Regions from separate parts of the Homo sapiens genome. Here all the other regions are linked to region 5. Evidence: fine-mapped expression QTL. A gene starts in region 5. Each other region holds a variant in brackets. All regions are shown on one strand. Distances are between the middles of the regions.

Evidence for each region. PIP is the estimated chance that this variant, and not a neighbour inherited with it, causes the effect.
Region 1: its variant is fine-mapped to the expression of TXLNB in amygdala (GTEx, PIP 0.98).
Region 2: its variant is fine-mapped to the expression of TXLNB in monocytes (TOPMed, PIP above 0.99). The same link has a PIP of 0.9 or more in monocytes after LPS, monocytes after Pam3CSK4 and whole blood.
Region 3: its variant is fine-mapped to the expression of TXLNB in whole blood (TOPMed, PIP 0.99).
Region 4: its variant is fine-mapped to the expression of TXLNB in whole blood (TOPMed, PIP above 0.99).

Annotation. Positions count from the first base shown.
Region 1 is chr6:139,123,323-139,128,430 of GRCh38, forward strand. No RefSeq gene overlaps it. Among named protein-coding and RNA genes, the nearest start is that of HECA, 9.2 kb to the right of the region's middle. RefSeq lists an enhancer at 3,310-3,811. The variant A/G (reference allele first, on the strand shown) is at 2,201.
Region 2 is chr6:139,335,175-139,340,282 of GRCh38, forward strand. It overlaps the pseudogene LOC100129844. Among named protein-coding and RNA genes, the nearest start is that of CITED2, 37 kb to the right of the region's middle. The variant C/T (reference allele first, on the strand shown) is at 2,874.
Region 3 is chr6:139,266,580-139,271,687 of GRCh38, forward strand. TXLNB (taxilin beta) reads right to left here. Exons shown (of 10, transcript NM_153235.4): 4 at 3,877-4,047. It overlaps LOC102723690 (a long non-coding RNA gene), which reads left to right and starts at 4,757. Exons shown (of 5, transcript NR_197427.1): 1 at 4,757-4,970; 2 at 5,080-5,108. The variant T/C (reference allele first, on the strand shown) is at 2,510.
Region 4 is chr6:139,315,565-139,320,672 of GRCh38, forward strand. It overlaps a transcript of TXLNB not described here. Among named protein-coding and RNA genes, the nearest start is that of TXLNB, 26 kb to the left of the region's middle. The variant T/C (reference allele first, on the strand shown) is at 2,692.
Region 5 is chr6:139,289,387-139,294,494 of GRCh38, forward strand. It overlaps TXLNB (taxilin beta), which reads right to left and starts at 2,612. Exons shown (of 10, transcript NM_153235.4): 1 at 2,535-2,612. All of the region lies in intron 4 of LOC102723690 (a long non-coding RNA gene), which reads left to right. RefSeq lists enhancers at 1,327-1,386, 1,587-1,836 and a silencer at 1,446-1,740.

The sequences.
Region 1 (5,108 bases), 170 kb before region 5:
GGTTTTTGTCTTTGGTTCTGTTATATGATGGATTACGTTTATTGATTTGCGTATGTTGAACCAGCCTTGCATCCCAGGGATGAAGCCCACTTGATCATAGTGGATAAGCTTTTTGATGTGCTGCTGGATTCGGTTTGCCAGTATTTTATTGAGGATTTTTGCATCGATGTTCATCAGGGATGTTGGTCTAAAATTCTTTTTTTTTGTTGTGTCTCTGCCAGGCTTTGGTATCAGGATGATGCTGGCCTCATAAAATGAGTTAGGGAGGATTCCCTCTTTTTCTATTGATTGGAATAGTTTCAGAAGGAATGGTACCAGCTCCTCTTTGTACCTCTGGTAGAATTCGGCTGTGAGTCCATCTGGTCCTGGGGTTTTTTTTGGTTGGTAGGCTCTTAATTATTGCCTCAATTTCAGAGCCTGTTATTGGTCTATTCAGGGATTCAATTTCTTCCTTGTTTTGGAGTGTGTATGTGTCCAGGAATTTATCCATTTCTCCTAGATTTTCTAGTTTATTTGCATAGAGGTGTTTATAGTATTCTCTGATGGTAGTTTGTATTTCTGTGGGATCGGTGGTGATATCCCCTTTATCATTTTTTAATGCGTCTATTTGATTCTTCTCTCTTTTCTTCTTTATTAGTCTTCTTAGAAGTCTATCAATTTTGTTGATCTTTTCAAAAAACCAGCTCCTGGATTCATTGATTTTTTGAAGGGTTTTTTGTGTCTCTATCTCCTTCAATTCTGTTCTGATCTTAGTTATTTCTTGCCTTCTGCTAGCTTTTGAATGTGTTTGCTCTTGCTTCTCTAGTTCTTTTAATTGTGTTGTTAGGGTGTCCATTTTAGATCTTCCTGCTTTCTCTTGTGGGCATTTAGTGCTACAGATTTCCCTCTACACACTGCTTTAAATGTGTCCCAGAGATTCTGGTATGTTGTGTCTTTGTTCTTATTGGTTTCAAAGAACATCTTTATTTCTGCCTTCATTTTGTTATGTACCCAGTAGTCCTTCAGGAGCAGGTTGTTCAGTTTCCATGCAGTTGAGCAGCTCTGAGTGAGTTTCTTAATCCTGAGTTCTAGTTTGATTGCACTGTGGTCTGAGAGACAGTTTGTTACAATTCTGTTCCTTTACATTTGCTGAGGAGTGCTTTACTTCCAACTATGTGGTCAGTTTTGGAATAAGTGCTATGTTCACCTAGAACTTTCAAGTCTTGATTCATAGTAGATTAATTTTGTCCTTTAAAAGAGAACAAACCAACATAGCAAATATTGGGTTATTTTTTCCACTTACAGGCTTTACTAGAATAGAAAATGCTAGCAATTTATTTGTGGGTACTGAAACTTATGGTATGATCTAAACAGAATAAGATGGTGGGATGGCTTTTCTTTAAGATCAAATTTTTGTCTTTAAGTACTATGATTTTTTTTTCCCTTTAAAATGTCTCCTATAGTGATCCTTTTCCTCGGTTCTCCTTTTAACTCCCTAACTGCAAATTCTCATCGTCTCATCCCAACGATGATACAATATATTTTCGGCTGGCTTCCTTGTCACCACTTTTCCTATCAAATGTATCCTGAATGTTACTATCAGAGTATTCTTCCAAAACGATGTTTTCATCACATCATTCTTATCTAGTAACTTACAATAACTTCTTAGAGCTGGACAAATCAACTTCAAACTTGGGCAAGGCATTGCTTCTCATAATCTCCTCCCCACCGGCTCCCAGCTTTGTACACCAGAGTGCGCTCTGTTGCAATCTTAGCATCCTGCATGGGTCCCTGGTACAAACTGTCCCTTTAAGGTATCTGTATCTGCATGCAACAGGAAGTGGGGTGTGGTTTGTTCTGGGATGAGACTACAGTTGTATGCTGAAAAGAGTTTATCCTTGACCTAGAACTAGTACTGCTTTTAGAAAAAAAAATCTTGTTTACCGTTAAAAAGGAGAAAGTTAAATAGCACTTACAGTTAAAAAGAAAAAAAGGCAAATAGCAACAGACAAAGAATATAAAATGTAAATGCTCCTGGTAATAACAACCACTATTTATTGAGAGCTTACTATGCGCTAGGCCCTACACATACATTATGAGTCTTAACTCTGAAATAGATACCATTATCCCCATTTCACAAATATCTTGTCCAAGATCACACAGCTAGCAAGCCAAAACTGCAACTCGGAAAGTCTGGCTCCGTACACACGCCCCTAACCAC[A/G]AAACTATAATAACTCTTCATTGGATCTAAAGCTGGCATCTACCCTGAAACCTGAGAAGTGCCTGCTCTAGGAAATAACAAATGTTTTCTGCTTATATGCTAGAAGGAATTTCCTCTATCTTGAAGGGAAAGGTTTGTTTTTTTGTTTTGTTTTGTTTTGTTTTTTTAACAAATGCACACTGTAGTGTAGGTCCAAACAATACACAGTGGTACTCTTATCACCCTGGCTTCCACTTTTGAGCAGCTCCTTTAGGTATTGATCAGGTGTTTCCTCTTACAAAGAAACCCCACAGATTACCAAGGGCAATGTTTTAACCCAAACCAGACCATGGGCCACAATATTACAAATTGGAGAGTGTGGTAGGATTGGTTTGGAGTAGAGTCCATGCTGTGATCCTCTGTGGGAGACTGTTGGCTAAACCCAACTTGGCAACTTTAATGGTGCAAAAAAATGGCCCAAACCAGGAAGGCTGCAGAATCAGTATGTCAGCACTTAAAATAGAATTTTCTAGTAGAAATGTTAACACAATATAGAAGTAGAGAACTATGACTAGGTGATCAACAGCATATAGGAAGTGGCCATACCTAGAATTTCAGGCATAAGAAGATCTTGTACATGGGATGTTGCCTCCGTTGCCTACTATAATATAACAATTTAATCATTTCCCATTGGCTCATAAGAGCTGGTTGTGCACATCTCTTCCCAACCTTGAGTTCAGTGGCTTGTGCTGATAACCTAAAACTGGCCACAGTAGGAGTATTTATACCATGGGCAACTAGAAATGCTACAAATCAGAGTTCCCTCCCACATCCCTTCCCAGCCAGTTTAGCAACAGCACAGCACTAAAACTACCCCAAGAGTTGCTTAAAACAGCAACTATTTATTATTTCTCACAATTCTGTGGGTTGACTAGGCTCATCCGGGCAATCTGTTCCATGTGGTAAAGCTGTGGTGACTCATACAGCTATATTCAGCTAAGATAGGATTTCTCAAGCTTGGCACTAGATTCGGGGCTGGATAATTGTTTGTTGTTGCGTCCTGTGCATTGCAGGCTGTTGAGCAGCATCTCTGGCCTCAACCTACTAGATGCTAGAAGTGACAACCAAAAATATCCCTGGACATTGCTAAATGTCCCTGAAGGCAAAATTGCCAGGGGTTGAGAACCACGAAGCTAAGAGCTTGGCTGGGGCTGGAACACAAGTATCCTTTCTCATCTTCCACATGTCCATGATCTTTTATTAAAGAAAAATGTTATTCATGACATTTGTTACAGATGGTAATGCAAACTTTTCAGGGGAACTACTACCATGGAGTTTTGTATTAGGAGAGAGAGATTGGGCTCAACTCCAAATACAACAAGGAAAAGTGGGGATTTGTAGCCAAGGAGCAGGGGTGGGAGTCAGTGGATAGACAGTTACTAAGAGGAAACATCAAGGTTAGGGGGATTGTGGCCAAACTGACTTGAGAGGATTCTTGCTGAAGGCAGGCCAGGCTGATCTCATACGGAAAGTTGGGGATTTTTATGAAATTGACCCAGCAAGATTCTTGCTAAAACGGAACTAAGCAGGCCAAGGACGAGGCAAGGTTGGGGCCTAGTCAAAAAGAGGAATCAGAGGGGCCTGACTCAAGTTTGGTCAAGGACGGAGTCTTTGTCACCCTCTCCATGTGGCCTCTCATCATTCCATAGTCTGGCTCAAGTTTCTTTGCAGCATGGTGGCTGGCTTTTGGGAGAGCAAAAGCAAATTTAGGGTCCAGACTAGAGCAATTGCACTTTTGCTGCATTTCTAATTGGTCAAAGCAAGTCACAAGGCCAGGTTAGATTTAAGGGGAAGGCAAACAGACTCCACCTTTTGAAGAGAGGAGTAGCACATTTGTGTTCATCTTTAATCCATGCAGTGCTATGTTTGCATTTAAGGACTTAGAACAAATATTCTGCAGGAGGAAAGGAAATCTTAAGACAAAATTCTATTCGAGATTGATTGAAATGAACTCCAGAACCATACATAGCAGTACTTATTACTGGACTAAATGTGAAACTGATTGTTCATGTGATGGTAAATTTTTGTTACCTATAACAATTACAGCATATTTGAAGTTTCTTAAAATGGAAGCAATACCATGAATGTTCAACTGTTTACATCATTTAGAATTAGTACTTAATGTATTATATCTTCTGACAGTTTCCGTTTTATAGTTTTGAAGATATTTCCCAAGAAGTTTTCTAAAGAACTGGTTGTTTACAAGAGGGATCCAGTATCTGTCTTTTCACCATTGTATCAATACTCACCTGATTGCTAGTGCCAGAAGTAGATTGTTTTCTTTTCTTTTTCTTCTTCCTTATTTTTTTTGAGATGGAGTCTCACTCTGTCGCCCAGGCTGGAGTGCAGTGGCACCATCTGGGCTCACCACAACCTCCGCCTCTCAGGTTCAAGAGATTCTCCTGCCTCAGCCTCCCGAGTAGCTGGGATTATAGGAGTGCACCACCACACCCAGCTAATTGTTATATTTTTGGTAGAGATGGCGGGGGTGGTTCACCATGTTGGCCAGGCTGGTCTCAAACTCCTGACCTCAAGTGATCTGCCTGTCTCAGCCTCCCAAAGTGCTGGGATTACAGGTGTGAGCCACTGTGCCCAGCTAGAAGTAGATTTTTGTTGTTGTTGTTCCAAGGCATTATTTCCCCTAAAAATATTCAGCAGGACTCTACTTCCGTAGAATGTTAATAAGCATTACATGTAAAAGGATTTATAGGTTATATACATTTGGGAAATTCTAAGTTGAGAGTAAACAGGTTTCTTTACTGCTGGACTTTTAGGATCTTTACTATGCTAATATATATTGTGACTCATACAATATACAGTGTTTCCTAGACTTATTTTACCACAGAAATAGAGGCACGTCTTATATAAC
Region 2 (5,108 bases), 46 kb after region 5:
CTAGCCATCTTCATCTTTCAAAAAGTCACCCTTAAAACGCATCTTGTGTTTCTTTCACTGCTGTGATGATGAAATCTGTCTCAAAAGAAGCATGTCGGTGTTGACTTCATAATCTTAGAGGCTGTAACATACAGGGAAGGCTGTTACTTAGAAACATACTCTCAGAAAGGTTTTTTGGAAGTTTTTAGGGAGGGGGCGAAGAAGAACTAGGGACAGGTAGATGGTGAATAGAATAACCTGAAGCCATGAGTCAAGGTCAACAGCAACAATAAGTCAAAGCAAGATCACTGAACATTGGTGAAAATAAAAAGAAGTGGAATCAGACTACAGAGGAAAATGAGTAAATTTAGTATCCAGAACTACTCTTAATGGGAAGTCCTATTAGCTTGTCTCCCATCAGAGTTAGGTGAAGTAATAATCTCCAAAAGGTGGGGCTGTTACCTCTGCAGGCGTTTAGAACTGGTCTGAACAAATCACCTGCAAGCTTTTTTGTGGTGGAAGAATGCTGTAGAACGGAGCTGTGAAAGCAAGTATAATTTCTTTTCTGACTCCCTCTGACTTTCACTTAATCATGTACAGGCAGTTCAAAAATCCTGCTGCCTCTTTCTTGCCAATTTCAATACAAATTCTCTCTGGCCAGAAAACTGATCATTTGGTATATAACCTTTTTTTTTTTTTTTTGGTTGGTTCCTCAGTTTCTCCACAACATCACCTGACATTCTGCTACATAAATAGCTATAATTTTAAATAAAATGAGTCAAACGCTAGTGTCAGGCCTTTACAAAGGCTCTCTCACCCTTTAAGATCGCTATAATCCCTCTTTTACATAAAAGGCAATAATGTTCAGACTCTAAGCTAGTGAGTTGAAACGCAAACTCTGAACCATCTCATCAGAAAAAAAAAAGAGCATAGGTTTAGAGTCAAATGAACTCCTGTGTGAATTCTGGCTTAGCATGCCTATTTCTGTCCCAATCTATTCTATAATCTCCTTTATCCTTGTAGTGGAATTATTTTAAATTCTATCTTGAGACCCTTGTCTGGGAGCTTATATGATTCATTCCATCATTGCCCAAATGAGATAGACCAGGAGGCTGGATCCTCCTCTTAGTAGGGGTGGATGCTTTTTTAGTGGCTGTAAATGGATCAGTCCATGACTTAATTGTGCATGAAATAGAGATTTTTAAAAATTTTCTATAACCAAATTTAATTTCTGTCATAAATGCTAAATTTCTACCTGGTAATGACAAATTTAATTCTTCTAATTCAGGATAAACCTAGCCAAATTAGGATTTTTAAGACATTGTTTCAGGGTAAAATCATTCAATTTAGGCTTCTTCCCCCAAATTTCAATTAGCCCAAGTGGCATCTAACTTTAGGGAGGTGTTACGAATTAGGTAACCCCAAGTTATTTGCATTTCTTCTTTTCCTGAGAGTGGAAGTAGCAAGGTATAAAGTGTTATAATAATGGCTAGTAATTTGCAAAGAGGTAAGATGATCTTACAGGAGTAAACCAGCTTGCTGGAAATGAGTATTTTCAGTTAAGGGCCAAAATTGTGTAGCACGAGCTCCCAGAAAGCCCCTGGAATTGTGCCAGCAGACACGGCCATGAATTTGGCAGTGGCTGCTGTAGCCGTGAGGCAAGGTAGGCCTTTGCCACAGGATCAAAAGACAGACTGTAATAAGCTATGGATTTTTGGTGCTTTCCTTGTAATTAAAGCTATTAGAGAATCAGAATTTTATTTAGAAGCTTCTTTATTCCAATCAAAAAAGATAGTACATTCAACATTAGGACTTTACTGTCCTAATGAAGAGAAACTTCATTTGCTCTAAGAACACTGTAAGATGGACAATTTTGGAAACATATGGAATTCTCCCAAAGTGGCCAAATCATCATCGGTGAACTAGTGCCAGTTTGTGAGATGTGTGCAAGCATTTGGATAATAATAAAGAAGCAAGTGTCTGGACTGGCAGAAGTGCACACTTGAACTGAGATTACCCCTGGAGAAATGATCATGGTCAGTTGAATGTGTTGGTTCTGCATTTTGTGTCTTGAGCCACTAACCAGTGGCTGGCCACCCTTGACAAGAGACTTGATAATTTGTGGCCCTCAGCAGATAGAATTTTTGGATATTCTGTCTTTCATATTAACTGTCAGTTGTAAACACAGAACAGAGGAAAAATGGACCTTGTACGTTTTTTTGTTGGTGACTTGAAGTAAATTTCATTTACTGGGGAACATAAGCTTGACAAAATTTTTATTAACAGCTTTATTGAGGCCAAATTGACATACAATAAAATGCACATAATTAAACTATAAACCTTGAAAAGCTTTGACATTTGTATACACCCAGCATAATAATCAAGATAATGAAAATATGCATCATAAGTTTCCTCATGTCCGTTGGTAATACCCCCTTCTTCTCCCTGCTCCCCATACCTCTGAGTCCCCAAGCAACCACTGATCTGTTTTCTAACACTGTAGATTAGTTGGTGTTCTAGAATTTTACATACATGGAATATAGTGTGCATTCTGAGAAAAAATATATTTTTTTTCGCTCAGCATAATTTTGAGATTCTTCCATGTTTTGTGTGAGTCAATAGTTCACTTTTTGCATTGATTTGTATTCTGTTATATGGGCATACCAAAAATTGTTTATCCACTCACCTGAACATAAACATTGAAGCCTTCTTTCCCTAGGTTTCTGCTGTTATAAATAAAGCTGCTATAAATATTCATCTACAAGTTTGTGTGTATAGATACATACTTTGTTTTCCTTTAAGTAAATATCTAGGAGTGAAATTGCTGCGTCATATGGCAGGGATATAATTTCCTTTTTAAGAAACTGTCAGTTGCCCCATCGTGCAATGTGGTG[C/T]GGCAACCAAGCCAGGGCTGCTCCATGAAGAGGAAGCAAAGACGGCTTGCCAGGACAGTGATGGAGAAGAACAAAAAGGCAGGATCGCCTCAATAAAAGGAGGGTGGCTTTGCCAGTTTGTAATTTAAAATACTGAAGCACAGTCTTTGAAGCAACAAGGAAATGCACACTATGCCAAGGAAGATTACAACGAAGCTTATAACTATTAAACAAAAGCCACAGATATGTGCCCTAAAAATGCTAGCTATCATAGTAATAGAGCAGCTACATTGATGATACTTGGAAGGTTCTGCGAAGCCCATGGAGATACTTTCACAGTGAAATTGGATGATGGTTTCTTCTGGGGACATCTACGAGAGGGCAAGTGCCACCTCTCTCCAGGGAATGCCATGGCAGCACATTGCAGTTTTCAGAGAGCCCTAGAACTGGATCATAACAATGCTCACTCACAACAGGAGTTCACAAATGCTAATGCAGTCAAGGAATAGGAGAAAGTCATAGAAACAAGTTTTGAGAAGTGGGCTTTTCAGAAGGTTGTTTTCTGCATGGACTATGCCCTAGAATTTGCCCCTGTCTGCCATCACTTCAATATCCCTCAAAGCAGAATGTTTAGCAATGCTGGGTCGTTATCCAGAAGCACAGTCTGTGGCCAGTGACATTTTATGAACGGATTCCACCAATGTGGATGCTCTGTATGTACGCGGACCTTGCCTTTATTATGAAGATTGTACTGAGTAGGCAGTTGTTCAGTTTTTTGTACAGGCTCTCAGAGTGGTTCCTGACCATGAGAAGGCCTGCCTTGCGTGCAGAAATGCCAGAGCACTTAACGCAAAGAAAGAAGACTGGAATAAAGCGTTTAGGGAAGGAAATTACAAACTAGCTGATGAACTGTACGCAGAACCCCCGGGGTAGACCCCGACAACATAAAAGCAATTGCTAAACTCTACTGTAACCGGGATATGGTTAATTCCGAGCTTGGGAAACTAGATGATGCAATAGACAGCTGCACAAATGCAGTGAAGCTCATGACACTTACATAAAAGCCTACTTGAGAAGAGCTCAGTGTTTCTTGGACACAGAACAGTATGAAGAAACAGTGCGAGGCTATGAAAAAAGTATATCAGATGGAGAAAACAAAAGAATACAAACAGCTCCTAAAAAATGCACAGCTGGAACTGAAGAAGAGTAAGAGGGATAATTACTACAAGGTTCTGGAAGTGACAAGAATGCCTCTGAGGACAAGATCAAGAAAGCTTATTGGAAACAGGCCTTGAAGTACCATCCACATCGTCATGATGGAGCCAGCGCTGGGGTTCAAAAGGAGGAGGAGAAGATCAAGGAAGTGGCGAGGTCTTTATCATCCTCTTTGATTCCAAGAAAACGATTCATTATCACAGTGGGCAGGACCTGGATAAGGAAGACATAAATTTGGGTGATTTTGATGCAAACAATATCTTCAAGGTATTCTTCCGCGGTCCTACGGGCTTCAGCTGTGAAGCATCTGGTCCAAGGATTTTCTTTCTTCGATTGGGCTCATGAAAGGCAACCATCCAGAATCCAGAAAATGCAGAGTCGCTCAGTTTAAATGTAATCAGCAGATCATTTCTATTAAGAGAGGAATATTTAAATCTCAAACCATAATTTGTCTGCCTCTCCTGTAGATCTATCAGTTTTTTGCTCAATGTATTTTATTATTAGGTGCATAAATGTTTAGATTTGTTTATGACCTTTTATCATTATGAAATAAACTTGAAAAATCCCATGTAATATTGTTGGCTGTGAAATCTATCATGTCTGGTAGTAATATAGTCACTACAACTTTCTTATAGTTAAGGTTAGCTAGATTATCTTTTTCTGTCTTTTAACATCTAACGTGTGTGTGTGTGTGTGTGTGTGTGTGTGTGTGTGTGTGTAAATGAATAACACCAAAAACAGTTACTTTGAGAAAATCAGTGAAATTGGTCAATCTCTGGCTAGACTGATCAAGAAGAAAGAAAATATATATGGAGAGAGAGTACATTTCTTATATGCAGCATATAGTTTGGTCTTCTGTTTTTTTCTTTTCTTTTCTTTTCTTTTTTTTTTTGAGACGAAGTTTCACTCTTGTTGTCCAGGCTGGAGTGCAATGGCGCGATCTCAGCTCACCACAACCTCCACCTCCTGGGTTCAAGTAATTCTCCTGCCTCAGCCTCCCAAGTAGCTGGGATTACAGGCATGTGCCACCATGCCCAGCTA
Region 3 (5,108 bases), 23 kb before region 5:
AAGACTGACTCGAAGACCTGTGGGACAATATCAAAAGGTCTACACACACAGAGTTAGAATCTTAGAAGGGAAGAAGATGGAGAGAAAGTGGAGCAGAAAAACTATTTGAAGAAATAATGGCTGAAAGAAATTCAAATTTGGTAAAAGACATATAATTACAGATACAAAAAAGCTTAGCAAATACCAAGTAGGGTACATGTGAAAAAAACCACTCCTGGCCTTAAAGCAGTAAAAGTTCTGAAAACGAAAGATCAATACAAAGACCTTGAAAAGGGCAGAGAAAAAGGACATATCACATATGGGGGAACAATAATTCAAATGATTGTTGATTTTCATGAGAAATTTTAAAAGCCAGTATAGTGGCACATTTATTTAAGGCTAAAAGGAAAAAAAAAAAAAAAACCCACGAATAGGTTCTCTCAATGCAGAATTCTATATCCAATGAATTTAGCCTTCAATTAAAAAAAAAATAAAGATGTTTTAAAGATAAAAGGCAACTAAGAGAATTGATTACCAGCAGATTTGTACTATAAGAAATACTAAAAGAAGTACTTCAGGCTGAGGGAAATGACATCAGACAGAAATGTGAAGCTACAGAATGAATAAGAAGTATCAGGAATGGTAAACATCTGGGTAGATAAAAGGGATATAGTTTTGCCTTTAATTTAAGAAGAAATACATATTATTGTTTAAAGTAAAAATTATAACAATGTCTCATCGGCTTTACAAAAGTATATAAATATAATACATATAATGATGATAGCTTAAAGGCTGAGGGAGTAAATTGATCTATTTAGTTGCAGTGTTTCTACATGTTATGTGAAGTAATACAACATTAACTCCAGGAAGACTATGAAAAATTAAGAATGTATATTGTAATCACAGAGCAACTACTAAAGATAATGTGTAGTGTTATAATTTCAAAATACAAGAGATGAAATGTAATTTTTAAATATTCAAATAATCCAAAGGAAGGCAGGAAAAGAACAAGATAAACAAAGCAGAGGTGACAAATAATAAATAATAAAATGGTAGACATATATCAAACCACATCAGTAAGTACATTATATGTTAATGGACTAGTACTGCAATTAAAGGGCAGATACTGTAGGAATGAAAAGAAGTAAGATCCAGCTATATGCTATCTTGAAAGAATGCACTTTAAATATAAAGACCCAGGCTGAAAATGAATGGATGAAAAGAGATACACCAGGCAAACAATAAGAGTAAGAAAACTAGAGTGGCTAAATTGATATCAGATAATGTAGACATCCAGACAAAGATTATTACTGGTCGGGCGTGGTGGCTCACACCTGTAATCCCAACACTTTGGGAGGCCGAGGCGGGTAGATCACAAGCTCAGGAGTTCAAGGCCAACCTGGCCAAGATGGTGAAACCCCGTCTCTACTAAAAATACAAAAATTAGCCAGGCATGGTGGCGGGTGCCTGTAATTTCAGCTACTCAGGAGGCTAAGGCAGAGAATTGCTTGAACCCGGGAGGCGGAGGTTGCAGTGAGCCGAGATTGCACCACCGCACTCCAGCCTGGACGACAGAGCGAGACTCCATCTCACAAAAAAAAAAAAAAAAAAAAAGATTACTAAGGGACATTTCATAAAGGTAAAATCACCAATTCATCAAGAGGACATAATAATCATAAATGTATATACACCTAATATTAATGCTTCAAAGTACATAAAGCAGAAATTGACATAATTAAAATAAGCGGACAATTCCACAATTATATGAAGAGATTTTTAACTCTCATTTCTCAGCAATTGATAAAAAAATTCAAAAAAGGCATAAATGATTTAAAGCTAATTGTTACTTATAGAACACTACACCCAACATCTGAAAAACATTGTTTTGAAGTACATATGGTATCAAGATAAGACCATGTATGATCGGCTATAAAAATTAAATAACACTTCTAAATAATCCCTGGGTCAAAGAAAAAATTAGAAAGAAAATTTGAAAATATTTTGAATTTGAATTCAAATTTCAAATATTGATTTTGACATTTAAATATGCTTGATCTTGGACAACCAATTTGGATTGCTGAGTGTCAGTTTCTTCACCAATAAAGTGGAGATATTAACCTTCACTGGGTTATCATGAAGATTAAATGAAATAATGTATATAAAGCACTTAGCATAACTTCTGGCATAATAATAATACTTAATGTCATTGTTCATAATGAGAAGCCATTACTGAGGGCATATGGGCACACTTACAGGGTCTCCTGCTACTTTGATCATTCTGTCTTTGTTTTTTTGGTGGGGGAGAATCTCTAGCCAGTTGGATGGTATTAATAAGATCTCTCTCTCTCTCTCTTTATTTTCTGAGACATTGCTCTCTGTCACTCAGGTTGGAGTGTAGTGGCGCAATCATAACTTACTGCAGGCTCGAACTTCTGGGCTCAAATGATCCTCCTGCTTCAGCCTCCCAAGTAGCTGGCACTGCAGGAACGTGCCACACTCAGCTAATTTTCCTGATTTTTGGTAGAGACAA[T/C]GTCTTGCTCTCATAAATGTTGCCCAGGCTGGTCTCGAATTCCCAAGCTGAAGTGATCCTCCGGCCTTGGGCTTCCAAAATGCTAGGATTACAGATGTGACCCACTGTGACCAGCTGAACATTCTGTCTTTCAATACTACCCAAGAAGACCACGCTGTATCATTCTACTCTTTATATCTCTTTGTTGATAAATGATCCCACCCTATCTGATTTAATTTTATCTCCTTACTGTGTAACATTACTGACAGACAGTGGATTTACGCAGGCACACAAGAGATTTATGCATCCTTTGAATCCAAACCTTGAGTTGAGGACGATGCTTCCATCCTCAGGCCCCCATTCGGCCTGGGAGTCTGTCTTCAGTACTATTGTTGACAAGACGCCAGTAGCACATCTAAAACCTGCCATTTGAGACTTTGACTTCATCACACTGGTTCTCCATTTCCCAAATATCAAAAAACAATTTGGGAAAATGAGGAACCATGATTCTCTTCTATTTTTCTTCCTAACTCAATTGTACAAATTCAGCAGTGATTTTCATGTACTCTGTTTCTTGAAGTATCTCCTTTTAAACGCTTATAATAATAACTACCTTACAGGAACACTGGTGTCTGATTAATTATTATTTGTCAAAAGATTTAGGATCTTCAGCTGGAAAGGGGATTGGGGATGCACACAGTATCATCTTGGAGAGCTCTGCATCTTGCTATATTGAATGGAGCTAGTGTCTCTGTGTAATCAAATTAACCACACTGCTAGGGCTTACGCTGTAATTAATGAAACCCGTGCAGACCAAATGAAGTGATCAGTCTATTATTTTTAGATTGAATAATTAAACCTGAAGAGCTTCAGTGCTTTTTCCAATAGCTTCCTTTTTTTCAGATGACTATTGACATTTTGGTTCTCAATCTCACTTCACTGTGTCAATTCGGTGTGTGTCCATTTGTCTCATGTCATGCAGAATTCATTATAACACCAAAAATGCTGAATCTTTACAAATGTATTTTTTTAAAAGAACTAAGGCCCACCTTAGAAACAAACTCAACATAATAGAAAGGTAAGGGGAATGGTATGCATTTTATCAAGGGCCTGCACTGTGTCAGGTACTGTGCGGGTACCTTACCTATTCAACTTCATCTAATTTTTTCCCAGCCACACAGTGAAGCTGGTCTAATCTCCATTTTACGGATGAAGAAAGTAGCTCAAGGAGGTAAAATTATTTAAGGTTACAAGCAAGCAAGGGGCAGAGGCAGTATTTGAACCCAAGCCTCTCTGATTCTAAAATTCACACTCTTTCCATGAGTAGCAGAGGCCTGTCTCTGTGCCCCATTCAAGAAATTATGTTATTCTGAGGCATGGGGACATACCTTCAGAGTCTTGTTGTGTCTCTGCAGCTCCCGGCACAGACTCTCCAATTTGCTTCGAGCGAGGATAGCTCTGCTGTGTTCACCTTGTAACTGGTCCTTTTCTTTTTGAATTTGTACCTGTTTCTTTTGGAGGAGCTTTAACTTCTTTTGCTCAGTACGATGTTCATCCAGCTGTACACATGGAGATACAAACATGAAAGAAAATGGCAGGGATCTCCTTGGAGTGGATAGAAAAAAAGCAAACCTAAAGATTACTCTGTGGTTGTTTGGAAACATTTTTTGCTATTATCTCTTCCTCTGGAAGTAAATGAAATTCACAAACGTCACCTTTGTAGTACTTGAAGGTATATAGTTTTTAGAACACAGCATTGATAGGTTTTTCATTATTATTAGTCTCTTTTTACTTTGATCTATTTTTGGATGGTCTAGAAATATTTTTCCTGAGTCTATCTAACCAATATTGAATAGCCAGACAAAATAGAAAGGCATGTCTCAGAATCTGTAAACTGCCAGAGTTCATGACGATGCCTTGCATTGAGGCAATGATCTAAAGTCTGTCTGCTTGGGTTGCATTGAGTTTTCCTAATTCTTCCTTGAAACAAGCTTCTAGCGCTATTTTTAAAAATAGGAAAGAGAAATGCAGCCTCCTGGTAAACAGAAGATGAAGTTCTCTTCTTTATAATGTTGGGCTCTGAGTGTGGATTGTTTATGTGTGGGAAAGGAGAAGAGAAAGTACCCTTCCACTACCTAAGCATTGACGGGTTTTCACCAAAGCATCAGAAATAGCTTCTGCATGATTCAACAGCATGAATAGCAAATATCTGTAACACGCCTTGTTGCTCCCCACCCGCACCCGCTCTGTGCTTATAACAAATAAATCATTCTGCTGGTTTCTGCTGAGCCCAGTTGAACTCTTCTCATGTTCCTCCAGCAGCCACAACTAAAGTACTGTATCAGGACTGCCTTGGAACATGAAACCAACTTACCGCTGTACTTTCCATCTTGGATGCTGAAGTTCTAGGGTAGGGTTGTCAGTAAAATGCAGGACACCCAGTTAAATTTAAATTTCAAATAAATAAGAAATAATTTTTAGCGTAAGTATTAATATATTCCAAATATTGCATGAGACATATTTTTGCCAAAAAGTTATTTGTTGTTTGTCTGAAACGTAAACTTTGTATTTTTATTTGTTACATCTGGCAGCATTATTATGGAGTTGTAGACCTGGTGTG
Region 4 (5,108 bases), 26 kb after region 5:
ATGAATGTTGTAATAAAGAAACAATTATTTGAATACAAAGTTCACACAAATAGAATATTTATAATATCCCAGGCAAGTTTGAGTTTCAGATTCCCTTTAAGTAGAATATATTATAAAAATTGTGAGAGGCAAGGATGAATATTCAGACAAGGGAGTTTAAAATTCTTCATGAGAATAAAGCAAATGATAGAAGAAAAATAATTTATGCTGAGATGAATAAAATGTATGTGGGCCAGCTTTTTAAAAAATCACAATTACTTTCTTATAAATTTAGAAATAAAGCCATTTAATCAACAGACTTAAAATGGATGTTATTTTAGACACAGAGAACTTATAAAGAGAATTTGGATTATGAAGTTACAAGCCAAAAAGATACAGAATTTAAAATGATACAGATTTCAATAAATAAGAAATGTGAAAACTAAATTATATAATATAGTAATAATAGTAAAACTTCATTAAGTTTAAATAATAAGTAAAAAATGACAGGGAGAAAAAATATTTGGTAAGAATATACAGAGAAGAATGTAAAAATCTTGTTAGAAAATTTCCACTTCTATCTGTGAGGCAGTAGGTTATATCGGCCTAAGCCCTCTCTTCTGACAAGGGACAAAGATTCTTTGCTTGGCTAAGCTTTAGTCAGGGTCCTGAACCTTCTCTTAGGCCTACCTGTGCACTTCCTTATAAAATCCAGTTTTAGAAAAGAACACTATTAAGTCATTTTACCAAGAACCCCCACCTTTAATATCTGATCACCTTTGATATATGATCAGGTTTCTTATCCCTCCCCTCCCACCACAGGTGATGTTTGATCACCCTGGCCTGTCTTCAGCAAGAATCCTGTTAGGTTGGTTTAGTCAGAATTCCCTTACCCCTGATGTTTTCTGCTAGTAATTTTTTTTTTCTTATCACAGACCCTCTACCCTATTTCTTAGCTATAAATTCCCACTTGCCCAGGCTGTATTTGGAATTGAGCCCAATCTTTCATACTACAAGACCCTGTTGCAGTGGTCCCTAAACATATGTTGCTGATCTTGAATAAAGTCTTCCTTACTGTGCTTTAACAAGTATCATTGAACAATCTTTTCTTTAACACAAGAATAACAAAAAAGCCTGTAAAAAGTATTTTTTAAAAAACAGCTTTTGGAGACATCTGAGAACAACTAAGACTGCTGCAATTAATGGTACAAATTCTGGAGTCAGGGGAAATGCATTGAGGTAAACCTCACATTCTTTGTGGGTTGTCCTTTCAAGCCATTTTTCAATATGTAAGTGGCCCAGGTGAGAGGAAAAGCAGAAGGAAAGGCCTAGAACAGTTAAGGCTCACAAGGCTGGGGAGGCAAAGGTTGGAGTTCAATACTAGTCATGTACTTGAGGATCCAAGACTGGAGAAAAGGGAATTGCAGAAAAGTGGGTTGGATATTCTGCAACTCTTTTTTTCCCTCGGGGAATCTGATTATTCCTGAGGTTCCAGTGTGAGAATATAAGCGATAAAGCAGAAAGTGGAAGCTAAGAGGCTGAGAAATCAAGCAGAACTTGAGATAGTTTCACAGTGTTTGAGAGAGACAAAAATTGAGTTCAGACATTTCCAAGGACCTCTTATATTTTAGTTAGTTCAGTCACTGATTGGATCAAGATGTGTAGCTTCTCTGTCTTTTAGAAAAAAAAAGTCATCTCTAAAAGAAGATATTATCCAGTGATCTTGTAACTCATCATACACAATGATTGGCATTAAGTAAAAAATTACCAGACATCCCAAGAGACAGGAAAAAAAATGGGCAAATACTAAAGCAGAAACAATAGATGGCCTATATATTAGAGTTATAAAGACAGAGGTTTTTTTTTTTTTTATTGAAACGGAGTCTCGCTCTGTGGCCCAGGCTAGAGTGCAGTGGCGCAATCTCGGCTCACTGCAACCTCCGCCTCCCAGGTTCATGCCATTCTCCTGCCTCAGCATCCCGAGTAGCTGGGACTACAGGCGCCCGCCACCACGCCCAGCTAATTTTTTGTATTTTTAGTAGAGACAGGGTTTCACCGTGTTAGCCAGGATGATCTCGATCTCCTGACCTTCCCGCCTCGGCCTCCCAAAGTGCTGGGATTACAGGCGTGAGCCACCATGCCCGGCCAAGACAGAGGCTTTTTAATGGTAATAATAGAGTTAAGAAAATAGATTTATAAATATAAAATTTTGCCACAGAACTGGAATCTATAAAAATGATCCAATGAAAGTTATAGTTGAGAAATACAAATAATCAAAATTAAGATCTCATCAGATGACTGAGGCAACAGGATCACTTGAGGCCAGGAATTTGAGACCAGCCTGGGCAACATTGTGAGAATTTTTTAAAAAATTTAAAAAACAGAAGAAAAGATCTCATCAGATGATCTAAACAGCATATTAGACAGTAAAAGAAAGGATTATGGGGCCGGGCACGGTGGCTCACGCCTGTAATCCCACACTTTGGGAGGCCGAGGCAGATGGATCACGAGGTCAGGAGATCGAGACCATCCTGGCTAACACAGTGAAACCCCGTCCCTACTAAAAAATACAAAAAATTAGCTGGGGGTGGTGGCGGGTGCCTGTAGTCCCAGCTACTTGGGAGGCTGAGGCAGGAGAATGGCGTGAACCTGGGAGGCAGAGCTTGCAGTGAGCCAAGATCACGCCACTGCACTCCAGCCTGAGTGACAGAG[T/C]GAGACTCTGTCTCAAAAAAAAAAAAAAAAAAAGAAAAGAAAGGATTATGGAACTGCTAAATAAGAAATATGAAATTAAAAAGATGAAAAATATAAGAGAAGAAGAGATATATGAAAAGTGGTGATAATTCTTACGTATGTGTAATTAGATCCCCAAAAGGAAACGAGAAAGAGAATGAGAGATAAACAATAATTGAAGGGATACTGGCTGAGAAGCTTCCAAAACTGACACAAGATATCAAGTCAAACATTCAAGAATCTCTATAAAACCCAAGCACATCAAGGTACCAAGGTGTGTACCTTGGTAAAACTGCTTAAAACCAAAGACAAAGAGAAAATGTTAAAAGCATCCAGAGGACAAAACACATTATTTCCAAGCAGAAACAAACTGATGAAAGCTAGATGACAATGGAAGACAATGGACTGATATTTTTAGCATACTAACCAACTTAGAATTCTATAAGCAGTGCAAACATCTGAAGGTAAAGACATTTTTTCCAGACAAAATATGAGTGTATTTGTTGCCAATAAATCCACATTAAAATTGATTGATGTAGCAATCTCTATAAATATTAGTTGATATAAATGAATAAACTAAAATGATGAATTCACAAATGGTAGTTAGCCTTTTTTTGAGTTTAAGAGATTAAAGCTTTGTTCAGGATATTAGATTGTCTTCCTTCCTTTTTTTTTTTTTTTTTTTTTGAGATGGAGTCTTGCTCTGTCACCCAGGCTGGAGTGCAATGGCGCGATCTCAGCTCACTGCAACCTCAGCCTGCTGGGTTCAAGAGATTCTCCTGCCTCAGCCCTCCAAGTAGCTGGGACTACAGGCACGCACCATCATGCCCGGCTAATGTTTTGTATTTTCAGTAGAGACGGGGTTTTACCATGTTGGCCAGGCTGGTCTCGAACTCCTGACCTCGTGATCTGCCCGCCTCGGCCTCCTAAAGTGCTGGGATTACAGGCATGAGCACCACACCCAGCCAATGTCTTTCTCCCTTTAAAATTTTTTTTTTTTTTTTTTTGCAGAGATGTGGTTTTGCCATGTTGCTCAGGCTGGTCTCAAAGTCCTGAGCTCAAGCGATCTGCCTGCTTTGGCCTCCTCAAGTTCTGGGATTATAGGTGTGAGCCACTGCACCCATCCTTCCTTTCTTTCTTTTTTTTTTGAGACAGGGTCTCATTCTGTCACTCAGGTTGGAGTGCAGTGGCATGACCACACCTCCTTTGTTAAAGGAGCAATATAAGGCTAGCTGTGGTGGTTTATACCACACCCCAGCACTTTGGGAGGCTGAGCTCAGAAGTCTGAGACCATCCTGGGCAACATAGGGAGAACCCATCTCTACAAAAAAAAATTCAAAAATTAGCTGGGCATGGTGGCATGTACCTGTGTACCAGCTATTTGGGAGGCTGAGGCAGGAGGATCACTTGAGCCTGGGAGGTCAAAGCTACAGTGAGCCATGATTGTGCCATCTGCACTCCAGCCTGGGTGGCAGAGTGAGACCCTGTCTCTAAAAAAATAAATAAGTAAAAGGAGCAACATGAGAACAAGTAAATCCTTTTAAATGAGTATTTCACATGAATTAATAAATGACTATTTATAGTATTTAACAATTACAACAGGAAATGAGACATTTAGAAAGGATTAGCAATACACAGCATAGTGAAGTGGATAAAAAGTAAAAAAAAAGTTATTAAAAATACATTTCTACTACTTTATAAATATTTAGCTTATGGCCATATATATATAAATAACTGAAATATCTCTTAATTTGTAGTGGTTATTGAATATGTATTTTATATCTTGTTTTAAATTATAATTTGTTAAAGTTATTAAAATCCAATGTGGTATTAAATTATTAACTCTTTAAAATAAATATTAGTGCCTGGTTTCTAACTTCTCTTTCCCTTAAATAAAAGTTACTTAAGTAACTTCTAAGTGGTGACTAAGCCTATATGTTTTCTAAAATTTTGTATGACACATAGGTCCTAATTCATCAATTTGGGAGTAGACAATTACATTATATTCTTACTCATATTATCGATTTTGAGCACTAATCTATTCTTCCTTTAGGTTTCTGTTTCCAAATAATTTCTGGAAACCACAAGGAATATTTACAAAATCAGTGAGACAATTGCCTTCCTTGCTAGCTCGTTATGAGTTGATATTTTCAGTCCTAGAGGAACACAACTGTTGCCAGTGAACTCAAGTTTCCTTCACTAAAATATTACCATCACCAAAAATCCAAATTCATGGGACTGGGTTGGAGACGAGACACTGGAAATCAAATGGGTTCCTTTTTATTTCGATTATCATTTACTTAATTTGTAAAACTCCACTTTTGGGGAATTTTCTGTAGGCAGAAAATTTTCTAAGCATATAATCTCATTTTTTTTTTTTACCAACCTAGAGGTGAGCA
Region 5 (5,108 bases):
GCCCTTAAAAGGGACAAGAAATGCTCACTCAGGGAGCTCGGCTCTTGAGACAGGAGTCTTGCTGACGCTCCCGGCCGATTAAACTGCTTCCTTCTTTAACTGGGTGTCTGAAGGGTTTTGTCTGCGGCTTGTCCTGCTGCATTACAATTATTAAAGTAGGGACAGTGGAAAGTTGTTTTTCCAAATCAAGTCACACTGCTGGCATATTTTTGGTTTTGATCTTCAGTTTTCAGTAGCATTCCTTATTATTCACATTAAGAAAGTAATTCATGCTATTTTTCTTTGTGGCCATATTTGTCATTTTGCTTACACTAGTCAGTTTGTGTTACCATTTTCCTGTATAATTCTATGTAGATTAACAATCACTGGGGGTACATGACTGTATATATTTAAAATGTTTAAATATAAAGTGGTATTAGTTTTCTTTCAAAGTTAAAATATTTAATAGAAGAGCCATTGAATTTATTTAAATAACTCATAAGAATAACATCTCTAAGCTCTATTTGATCCATAAATCAATATTTTGCTTAGTGTGAATATTTTGATGTAAATGCATTATTACACTGGATAGAGGAGACATTTCTCACTTTTCTGGCATTTTCTTTTTCAGATAAGCAACACGAATGCTTTTTTTGAGGCTTAAACTGGCATCATTTTTAGATTAAGACAGGGAATGAGGGAAGGTATAAATAAATAGACAAAGTAGTATGGAAACACGGGCCAGGTGCTGTGGCTCATGTCTGTAATCCCAGCACTTTAGGAAGCCGAGGCGGGTGGATCCTTGAGGCCAGGAGACCAGCCTGGCCAACATGGTGAAACCCTGTCTCTACTAAAAATACAAAAATTAGCCAGGTGTGGTGGCGGGCACCGGTAGTCCCAGCTACTTGGGAGGCTGAGGTATGAGAATTGCTTGAACTTGGGAGGCGGAGGCTGTAGTGAGCCAAGATCGTGCCACTGCACTCCAGCCTGGGTGACAGAGCAAGACTTCGTCTCAAAAACTAAACAAAACAAAAGCATGATGATACTTATAACAACAATTCCTTAAATTTCTATAATACTCTTTTATTCCAATATATAAACCAATTTTTTAAAAGAGAAAAACAGATTACAACTTTCTCTTCTAAGTCAGGAAGCTCTAGAAAAACTTAATGATTTTTAAGAAGTAGCAATGTTTCATAAACAAGGAGGAGACCAACTCGAGAAATAATTCAGCAATAATAAGGGCCCTTAGGAAAGGGTGAGAGATGGTACTGAGTCAGAGATTCCAGGGTTTCTGACTATTACCACTTCTAGAGTTGCAATAGATTTGGTTTAGGCCTTTAAGTTATGGTGCATTTTATTTGTAAATAATATTTAACAGTGATGCTGCTAAATAGCAGCATAAAAATGTGGCAAGATCCTCATAATTCACAGGTTTTGCTGTTGTGGTAACATGAAAGTGAAAACAAAAGCATACTGTTCTACAACTGCACAGCTTCCTTTTCCTGTTCTCAGGGCAGTAGATGTCAATTGAATGCTCAGACACCAACAAGAACAGAAAATTCAACACACAGATGTTGCCACTGACTTGTGATGCTCACCAAACACTCATAACTTAGAGGAAGTACTTTTTTTCTTTCACTGGTTTGAATTCACCAACTTGATTATCAAATAATGCAGCAGTTTCATTATTTTCATCACTGGGATTTCTTTTCCTGACCTCACTTGTTGATTGCACTCATCTATATATAACTTAGGCCTCCCCTGAACACGGAGAAAGACACACGGCACCTGCTGTCCAGCCAGAAGTTATTTTAAGCTATTCTAAAATGAGTCATGCCGTTTAGCACTTCATCCTTGAAAATCAAGAGAATCGTTTTTCAGTCAAATTGAAAACAGTAAACATTTAGTGGCTTAAATCCATACATGGGTTTTAAAGTCGGGGAGACTATCTTAGGATGAAATAAAATCTCAAGTAAAATGAACTTCAAAATAATTAATTTAAGATAAGCTGTCCATAGGAGTTTTACTTCGGTTAGTCTAAATGCAAGTGGCTGTTTGTATTTGATTTATTCTTCATGAGATGCCACAATCATTGATTTTTTAAATTCTTAATTCCATGGCTATTCTTTAAACTCCTGTTCCACATTTACTTTAAAACAGAACAGTCATTATAAAGCCCAGGACAATTCAATTCCCAAAAGTAGCCTCAAGACAAGTTAACAAGAGGGAAAAAAACAAAGTCAGAGAACTTTGTTACTTTTCAATCATCCATTTTATATTATGTGGCAAAGAAATTATTTCTAACTTTTATCTTATATAAACTTTATTGCCTTATTTTCCCCTCCCCAGGGAGAGAACTTTTCACTTGTGTTGGCTATTCCAGATGACTATCACAGACACATCCCTCCCTAAGCAACACATTTTATTTATAAATACAACAATGAAAAGTTCTCCAACAGTTCACTGGCAATCTCAAAGTTGCAAGTTTCGAACACCACAAACCGCACCCTATACCTTCTCACAGGGCTTGGGGGAGTGTTTGTCATACTTACCAGAAGGCAAGAAGCTAAGCAAGAAGAGAGAGGAGAGGAAGGAGGCAGGAAAAAGCAAGTCAGAGCTGCAGCAACAGCAGGAGAGGGCGGGCTGGCTGTGTTCTTACAAGGGAGAGAGAAACCCAATACACACACACACACATACACACGTGCACGCACGCGCGCGCACACACACACACACACACACACGCCACAGGCACTGATGGAGGCAGCAGTCTGGAGGAGGTGGGGGTAGGGAAAGGAACATCATATGACACAGCAAGGGGAAAATACACCCAAGCTTCCCTAGCTGTTGCCAGGGGAAATACCTTAGCAGAGAGAAGCAGCTGGAAGATCTCATTAGACTCTCCATGTTTTGTTTGTCCTTTCGGAAATTTAAACTCTGAGTATATTACCCCCGTTGCAAATGCAGTCTTTCACCATTGTTGTCCTTTTTGGGTAGAGATCAGTTTTTCTTACTTCTTGGGTTATCTCCAGTGTGGTGGAAGATTCATCTTCTTTTTCTTCTTCTTCTTGCACTAGCTTAATTAGTGTCAGGTTTCTTACAGGAATCATGGAAAAAGAAAAACAATGGCATAAGAACAGGGAGGTGGTGGAACCATTTTAATTCTGATGTCATTGTTTGGTTTGTTTGCAAAGTTTGAAATAAACATGTAGATGGTGATTTTGGAGCTGAACTGAGTATAATCTTCATGCACGTGGTAATTGGTGTGACCTTGGAGCACAGTCTTTCCCAGGTAACTCTTCCCATCTCAAACAAACCCTCAGGGAAGCAGTCTGCTTTTTCTTCCTTAGTTGGTGGCTTTCCCACATTTTGTAAATCCTCAACATGCTCCTTGATCCTCCTCAGAAAAAGAAATTCCTTCTGATTCACCATAAAATGCCTGTCTATTAATTTACATCCATTTGCCTTTTATTTTTCTTTCTGGAGCTTGTGTTCCCATACTTCCAAAGCAGATTCCTCCATCGGTTTCTGCTCTGGGGACAGGCTAGGCATAGTGGCATCCCTTGTGGGAGGCAGAATAATGCCACCCAAAAGATCTCCACGTCCTACTCCCTGGAACCTGTGAATATGTTTCTTTACATGACAAAAGAGACTTTGCAGATGTGAGGAAGGATCCTGAGGTAGGGAGGTTATCTTGAACTACTGGGTGGGTTCAATGTAATCATAAGGGTATTTATTTATTTATTTATTGAGACAGAGTCTCGCTCTGTCACTCAGGCTGGAGTGCAGTGGTGCAATCTCAGCTCACTGCAACCTCCCGGGTTCAAGCGATTCTCCTCCCTCAGCCTCCCAAGTAGCTGGGATTACAGGCGCCTGCCACCACATCCAGCTAATTTTTGTATTTTTAGTAGAGACGGGGTTTCGCTGTGTTGGCTAGGCTGGTCTCGAACTCCTGACCTCATGATCCGCCCACCTCGGCCTCCCAAAGTGCTGGGATTATAAGCGTGAGCCATTGCACTCAGCCTCATAAGGGTCTTTATAAATGAGGGAGGAAGGCAGTAGGATTGGAGGCAGAAAAGGAGATTTGATGACCTCAGCATAGGTCAGGAAGCTTCTAGAAGCTGGGAAAGGCAAGGAAACAGATTATACTCTAGAGCCTCCAGAGGGATGCAATCCTGCGACATTGATCTTAGATCAAAGAAATTCGTTTTGGATTTCCGACCTCCAGAAATATAAAATAGCAAACTTATGTTATTTTTAAGCTGCTAAATTTGTGATAAGATGTTATGGCAACAAAAGGAAATGAAAACATCCCACCCCCAGTTTTGTCCTACTTATTCTCTGAGTTTAGGGGAGGCATAAGTTATATATAGATGAGTGCACCCAACAAGCAGAAGTCAGGATAAAGAAATTCCAGTGTTGAAGACAATGAAGCTGTTCACTATATTATTTGATAATTAAGTTAGTGAATTAAAATTGATGAAAGAGAAAAGCACTTTCTTCTAAATTAATGAATACTTGGTGAGTGCCACAAATTGGGTGGCATTCCATCCTGGATTGTAGCAAACTGACCCGATCACATCTCTTAGTAAATATAAACAAGTCAGTGCTTTTCAAATTTAAATAATGTATAGACTCACTTAACAGAATAATTTAAATAATGTGGAAATTATTTGAAGGATTATATTATTATTTGAACCTACATGTACTAAAATGAAAATAGGATAAATTCCTTATGCTTACAGTAGTTACATAAATTTTAAAATGTATACATTTTAAAGCCTACAAAATCAATAAATGCGACTCAAATTAATAACACTACTTTTATGTGACAGATATTGTTTTGCTGAACTTAAATTGCTGCTTGCAACATGAATACTCTATTGACTGCTGGGTTTTTTGAGTTTCTGGTACTCTTCTACAATGTGGTTTGGGAATTTCCTCAACACTTGATTCATTCAAATTATTACATAGTTTTTATTCATATGGCCTGCTATGATTTCATGGGGCTCTCATTTGATACGGCTGCATCATTTACTGCTTGCTATGGTCTGAATGTTTGTGTCCCCCCAAAATTCATGTGTTGAAATCATAAACCCCCAGGTGATGGTATGAGGAGGTGGGGCCTT